2 separate regions of the Homo sapiens genome follow, and region 1 is linked to region 2. The links come from fine-mapping of genetic effects on gene expression. Tissue or cell type: whole blood. Region 2 holds a variant in brackets; the other region holds the start of a gene. All regions are shown on one strand. Distances are from middle to middle. Region 1 holds the start of PSMD7 (proteasome 26S subunit, non-ATPase 7). Region 2 overlaps PSMD7-DT (PSMD7 divergent transcript).

Region 1 (2,745 bases), 100 kb after region 2:
TTGCGTCTGAACCAGGGCTGGCATATTATAGGCACTCAATAGATTCAATAATTCTTAGTTTTCTTTCCCCATTAACATAACCCTTATATCTTTCTAGTTATAATTAAGAATGAATGGCCAGGCACAGTAGCTCACACCTGTAATCCCAGCAGTTTGGGAGGCTGAGGTGGGAGGATTGCTTGAGGCTGGGGGTTTAAGACCAGCTTGGACAACATAGTGAGACACCAACTGTACCAAAAAAAAAAATGAAAAAATAAAGATAGCATTGAGTCTCTTCAATTAATTATGAATATTAAGCATATCCTGCCATTTACTTCCTTGCAGATCTAGCAGAAAATCTGAAAATAAAGCCAAGTTGCAGACAGAAGACAAAGATAAATTCACATGCAGACAAATTCAAACTCCTGACTACATTAATGTCTCTCATTGGTGGCCAAATTTCAGTCTAATCTTTGCTAATGTTTTTCACCACCCACAAATAAGAGAGACTGAGTGTGTCCCTTGACATTTGGAGATCAGGAAGTCCACCTTAAAAAGACAAGAGGCCAAAATGTTGGGAAAATCCTCTGGTGATAAAGGGAAAGCAAAAATTGTTTAAAAACAGAACAAAATATAAGTAAATAATTCAGGTTGCTTAAGTACTGTTTTCGTTTACAGAAACAGCAACTTCAAATGAGACGATATAAACCTGTATGATTTTTCTTATAATTTGCCTCCTGCAAATAAGCTTAAGTCTTTGTCTACCTTAGTCTTCTCTTTCCTAGCTACATATCACAACATACTTCCTTACTGCCTTCCTTCCGTCTTTTCTTCAACGCTTCTGTAAATTTTGATTTCAAAAGCAACGGCACAATTGCGTTCTTCTAGCCCTAGTTACGCAGTAATATAACGACAGGTGGAAACCTGCAGGTTGCCACGTTCATTGCAAAGTGTCCACAGTAAAGATAAAGGAGAAATTCCCCCGGCAATGAAAACGAGAATGAGATAAATTACCAAATTACATTAAAAGCGTGCTCTTATGTTAGAGATTTAAAGTTCCTCTCAGAAATCGCGGAGGATTTTGACCTGAAGCAAAAGTGAACTTCTTCCGGGTGGTAGAAAAGTAAACTGTCAACTATTTACTTTGGGGGGGTGGCGGGGGGAGGGTGCTGGGAAGGAATTGAGGCGAAAAGCCTCTGCAGGTGACGGTACAGGCCAATACCAGGAGGTCAAGTCGCCGGTGTCCCTTCGGCCCTTAAGTCCAGGGAAACGCACGGCGAGGGACGAGGGGCGATTCCCGCCTTTCTCCAGCCCTTTCTCCGCCCACAAATGACGGCGGTGGCGAAGATCCGGGCCCGCCGCGCGAGGCACTCTGGGAGCGGAAGAAGGAGGCCGCGCGAGGGCTGACGAACCGGAAGAAGAGGAACTGGGCCTGAAAGGGTACCGGTGACCGCTACTGCTGCCGGTGTTTGCGTGTGGCAGGGAGCCAGGCCTGGCGAGCGGGGTGTGTCGCGATGCCGGAGCTGGCAGTGCAGAAGGTGGTGGTCCACCCCCTGGTGCTGCTCAGTGTGGTGGATCATTTCAACCGGTGAGCGAGCGCCCTATAGCTGGGCCGGCGGCGCAGCCGCTGCTGAGTCACGGGCACGCTGGAGATGGCGCGGCGGCCGCGGACGAGCTGGGGACGCAGATAGGGCGGCTGGTGACCCTTACTTGTTCACGAGTCCAGACCAGCGTCGGCTCACGATGCCGGAGTCATCCAGCCTCCCGCCCCTGCCCCAGCCGCCGCCACTTCGGGGCCTTGGCTGCCTGTTCCGTTTAGCCTGTTTGTTTTACAGAGTTCCCTTTCCGAGTTCGTTTTGCCGAAGTTCGTTTTACCGAAATCTGGATGATGCTGGGGGTCGGGAGATGCGGCTAGCTTTAGTTGGCCCTGACCCCCGCCCCCAAGCTCGTGTCTGTCACTTCGTTTTGAAGTTCGTTTTGCCGAAATCTGGATAAAGCCAGGGTGGGGCGGAGGCGGGCTAGCTTCATTTGGCTCTGACCCCCGACCCCAGGGTCGTATCTTCATTTGACTCAGTTGATTTCACTGAAATGTGAATAATGCAAAGTGACTGATGTCTGGATGATGCTTGGGTGGGGCGGAGTGGGCTAGCTCCATTTAGCCCCGCCCCAAGGCTATGTTTATCTTCGTTTGACCGAATTGGTTTCACCGAAATATGGATGATGCTGGAGTGGGGTGCAGGGTGGCTACCTTCATTTGGCCCTGACCCCGGCCCCAGGGTCGTATTTATGTTTATCCTCGTTTAACCAAGTTGATTTCACCGAAATGTGAATGATGCAAAGTGAATGATGCCTGGATGATGCCGGAGTGGGGCTAAGGGGGCTAGCTTCAATTTGGCCCTGACCCCCGCCCCCAGGGTCGTATCTATGTTTGTCTTCATTTGACCGAGTTCCTGTTATCGAAATCTGGATGATGCTCAGCACCCCGAAGGGCTTCCTGGATCAGCTGTGGTTTTAACCCATTAACATTTTTAAATGGGAATCTGATTAGACTCCGTCTCAAAAAAAAAAATGTATATATAGATGAGGTTTCAGTTTTTATTTAAAACACGAGGCCGAGCATGGTGGCTCACGCCTGTAATCCCAGCATTTTGGGAGGCTGAGACGGGAGGATCGCTTGAGCCCAGGAGTTCGAAGCTGTCGTGAGCTGAGATCATGCCACTGCACTCCAGCCTGGGTGAGAGTGAGACCCTGTCTCCAAAAAAAAAA
Region 2 (3,032 bases):
TTTGTTATCTACAATTCTCCATGTGTAATTTGTCTTTTCCTCCACAAACAGATTGTCGATCCTTCAAAATAAGGTCTGTAATGTCTGTATTTTATATCTCATACACAATAGATGCATAACAAAATATTCGATTACTAATGTTTAAATAATAAAAATATCTAGGAATGTCCAGCTCTGACCTGCTACGTTTAGGTCCCAGGCCCAAGAAGAGGGAGCCTACAGTAAAAGATGTGGAGTCTATTGCTGAACTCGACCTTGACCTTCATCCACACTCTCCCCACTGGGCTCAGCTTCACCTTTCAGGCCTCACACACCTGTAGGTGGGGCCAGGTCTGAGGTTCCCTGACATATTTATCTCTCTGGTTCCACAACTATCATTTTATCCCCTTCTCATAAGCTTCATACCCAGTTCTAATTCCAGCCCCGGGAGTCAGGCTCTGGACAAGAAGTAATCTTGAAAGGTATGAAAACAAACAAATCTCTATATAAAGCCACAGTAAAAAGGTGATATGATTGGGTATGTAAACCATTCTTCTACTAGGATTATATTTAAGAGAAATGCAGCACATTTTCACACAACAAATATCTATGAAATCAAAGAACATAATCCCCAAATTATTAGTTTAGCAGAATGTTTAAATAAATGGAATGTTTAGCCTGCCAACTTCTCATACAAGTAGAATAATTATTCCACAAAAACGTCACACTCTAAAGCCTAGGATTTGCTGGTGTGCTCTTGCAAATACGTTTGCACCTAAGAAAATTCCAAGTATCGGAGCTTCAAAGATGAGAAACACTGAAGTGTCCAATCAATTTCTTTGACCCACCCAAGGTGTTACAATCTATTCTTGGTAGTTATGTTCTACTGAACATAATGGAAACACTGAATTAGGGAACACTGAACCATGGATCCCAGGAGAAATACAGTGTTGGGTTCCTGCAAACGTCGATCACAACATTTCTATCAATCAAGACATAACCTTGCTTTATGTGTTTGTTTAAATAAACCTTATTTAATATATTATTGATTCATTACCATTGAACTCAGAACTAAAGCACCTTAACTCCTACCTGAATAAAGCTTATCTAACACACGTATTTTCTCTGTAAGGCACTTCACAGCCTTCTGCTTAGGAATACTGGACACTACTTCAATACCAAGCTTCGGAGGAGGGAGGCATTTTAAACAGCAAAATCACTAGGAAATAGCACAAAAATGTGGAAAATATGGCACTAAGCAGACTGCAAATTTAAAAACACTTATTTACAAGAGCTGAAACAAGAAGACAGAGCGTTACCTTATTCAACATCATCTGGGAACATCCATGTCGGATAATTCAAATCCTTCATCACTCTACGCTTATCCACAAACGACTGCAAAAGCACCATAAGTACAGATTTGGGGGTTCTCAGGGATAAAGATTCTAGTGGGATGGCAGGAAAAACAACATTCTAATAGAGCTTTCTAAAAATGAAATGGGCC[G/T]ACCCAGGAGAGGACTTTCCAGTCTTTGGCGTGGTTGTTTGTAATTCAGATCTGCCACTCCCAAATCAAATACACATCAGAAAATCTGGGTGGGAGGCTTGTTAAAAATACTCCAGTGTTTCTGACTTAGTAGATCTAGATGGGGCTCAGAATCTGTATTTTTATCAACAAATTTTTCATCACTCTACGCATGTCCACAAATGACTGCAAAGGCACCATGAGTACTGATTTGGGGGTTCTCAGGGATAAAGATTCTAGTGGGATGGCAGGAAAAACAACATTCTAATAGAGCTTTCTAAAAATGCAATGGGCCACCCCAGGAGAGGACTTCCCAATCTTTGGCGTGGTTGCAAAAAGGAAATTTTTGCAAATAGGCAATTTCACAAATACAGAATTTGTCATAATAAGCACAGACTTTATCTCCATCTCAAATGTCCTCCTCAATAGCCCAATTTGATACTTACCTTGCACATCCTCTGACATCTCTCAATTTTCTAACCATTGATCTTGTTACTTACTCATCAACACCCACCCACCCCCCTTGGCTCCAATGCACATTTTCATCCTTCCTAATTATAGAAGTGCTATGCTCAAGTTTGTACATTTCATTGTATGTAAACTTCATCTCAGTATTTATGTGACAAAATAAGTATAGTAAAATGTTAATAAGAGAATCTAGGTGGTGGGTATATGGGTGTTCACCGTAAAATTTTTTCAATTTTTTGTGTGTTTGAAAACATTCCTAATAAAATGGGAAAAGAGAAAGGAATCACATGTTCCAAAAACATTCTAAAAATATATTTAATGAAATGAAATTGAATCTTTCCCCAATCTTCCACCCAATGCCTCACTTCCCTTCATAATGTCTTCATCAGGTGGTCATATGGACAAGTGATTTCCAAATGCTGGTTCATGGACCAGCTGCCTCAGAATAACCCAGGTGCTGATAAAAATACAGGTTCTGAGCCACATCCAGACCTACTAAGTCAGAAACACTGGAGTGTTTTTAACAAGCCCCCCCACCCAGATTTTCTGATGTGTACCTGGTTTGGGAGTGACAGATCTGAATTACATACAACCACACCAAAGATTGGAAAGTCCTCTCCTGGGACAGCCCATTTAATTTTTAGAAAGCTCTATTCGAATATTGTTTTTCCTCCCATCCAACTGGAATCTGCATCCTTGAGGTCTTCCACTCATCTATTCTTTTTATTTTTGAGGCCATAGACTGAATCCCTCTTCCTCTTTATAATAATCACAGTTCTCATTATTATTATGTTTTTGTAGAGATGGGGTCTCACTACATTGCCCAGGCTGATCTCAAACTCCTGGACTCAAAAAATCCTCTGGCCTCAGCCTCCCAAAGTGCTGGGATTACAGGCATGAGCCCCCACACCCAGTCCACAGCTCTCATGATCAGTGCTGATTACATCGTATGACGGTACACTCTGTGCTACGCTCTGTGCACCCTCTCACGGTAGCCTTGTAGATGTCATGCCCCACCCCATCTTCCTACCCTTCCCAATACCAAGCAGTCAGAGCACCTTCA

Evidence for each region. PIP is the estimated chance that this variant, and not a neighbour inherited with it, causes the effect.
Region 1: PSMD7 starts here. The variant in region 2 is the best candidate, but not a certain one, in a credible set for the expression of PSMD7 in whole blood (TOPMed, PIP 0.84).

The regions. Positions count from the first base shown.
Region 1 is chr16:74,295,422-74,298,166 of GRCh38, forward strand. It overlaps PSMD7 (proteasome 26S subunit, non-ATPase 7), which reads left to right and starts at 1,393. Exons shown (of 7, transcript NM_002811.5): 1 at 1,393-1,567. The coding sequence starts at 1,494. RefSeq lists enhancers at 626-1,517, 1,308-1,617, 1,518-2,407.
Region 2 is chr16:74,192,830-74,195,861 of GRCh38, forward strand. All of the region lies in intron 3 of PSMD7-DT (PSMD7 divergent transcript), which reads right to left. Among named protein-coding and RNA genes, the nearest start is that of PSMD7-DT, 21 kb to the right of the region's middle. The variant G/T (reference allele first, on the strand shown) is at 1,484.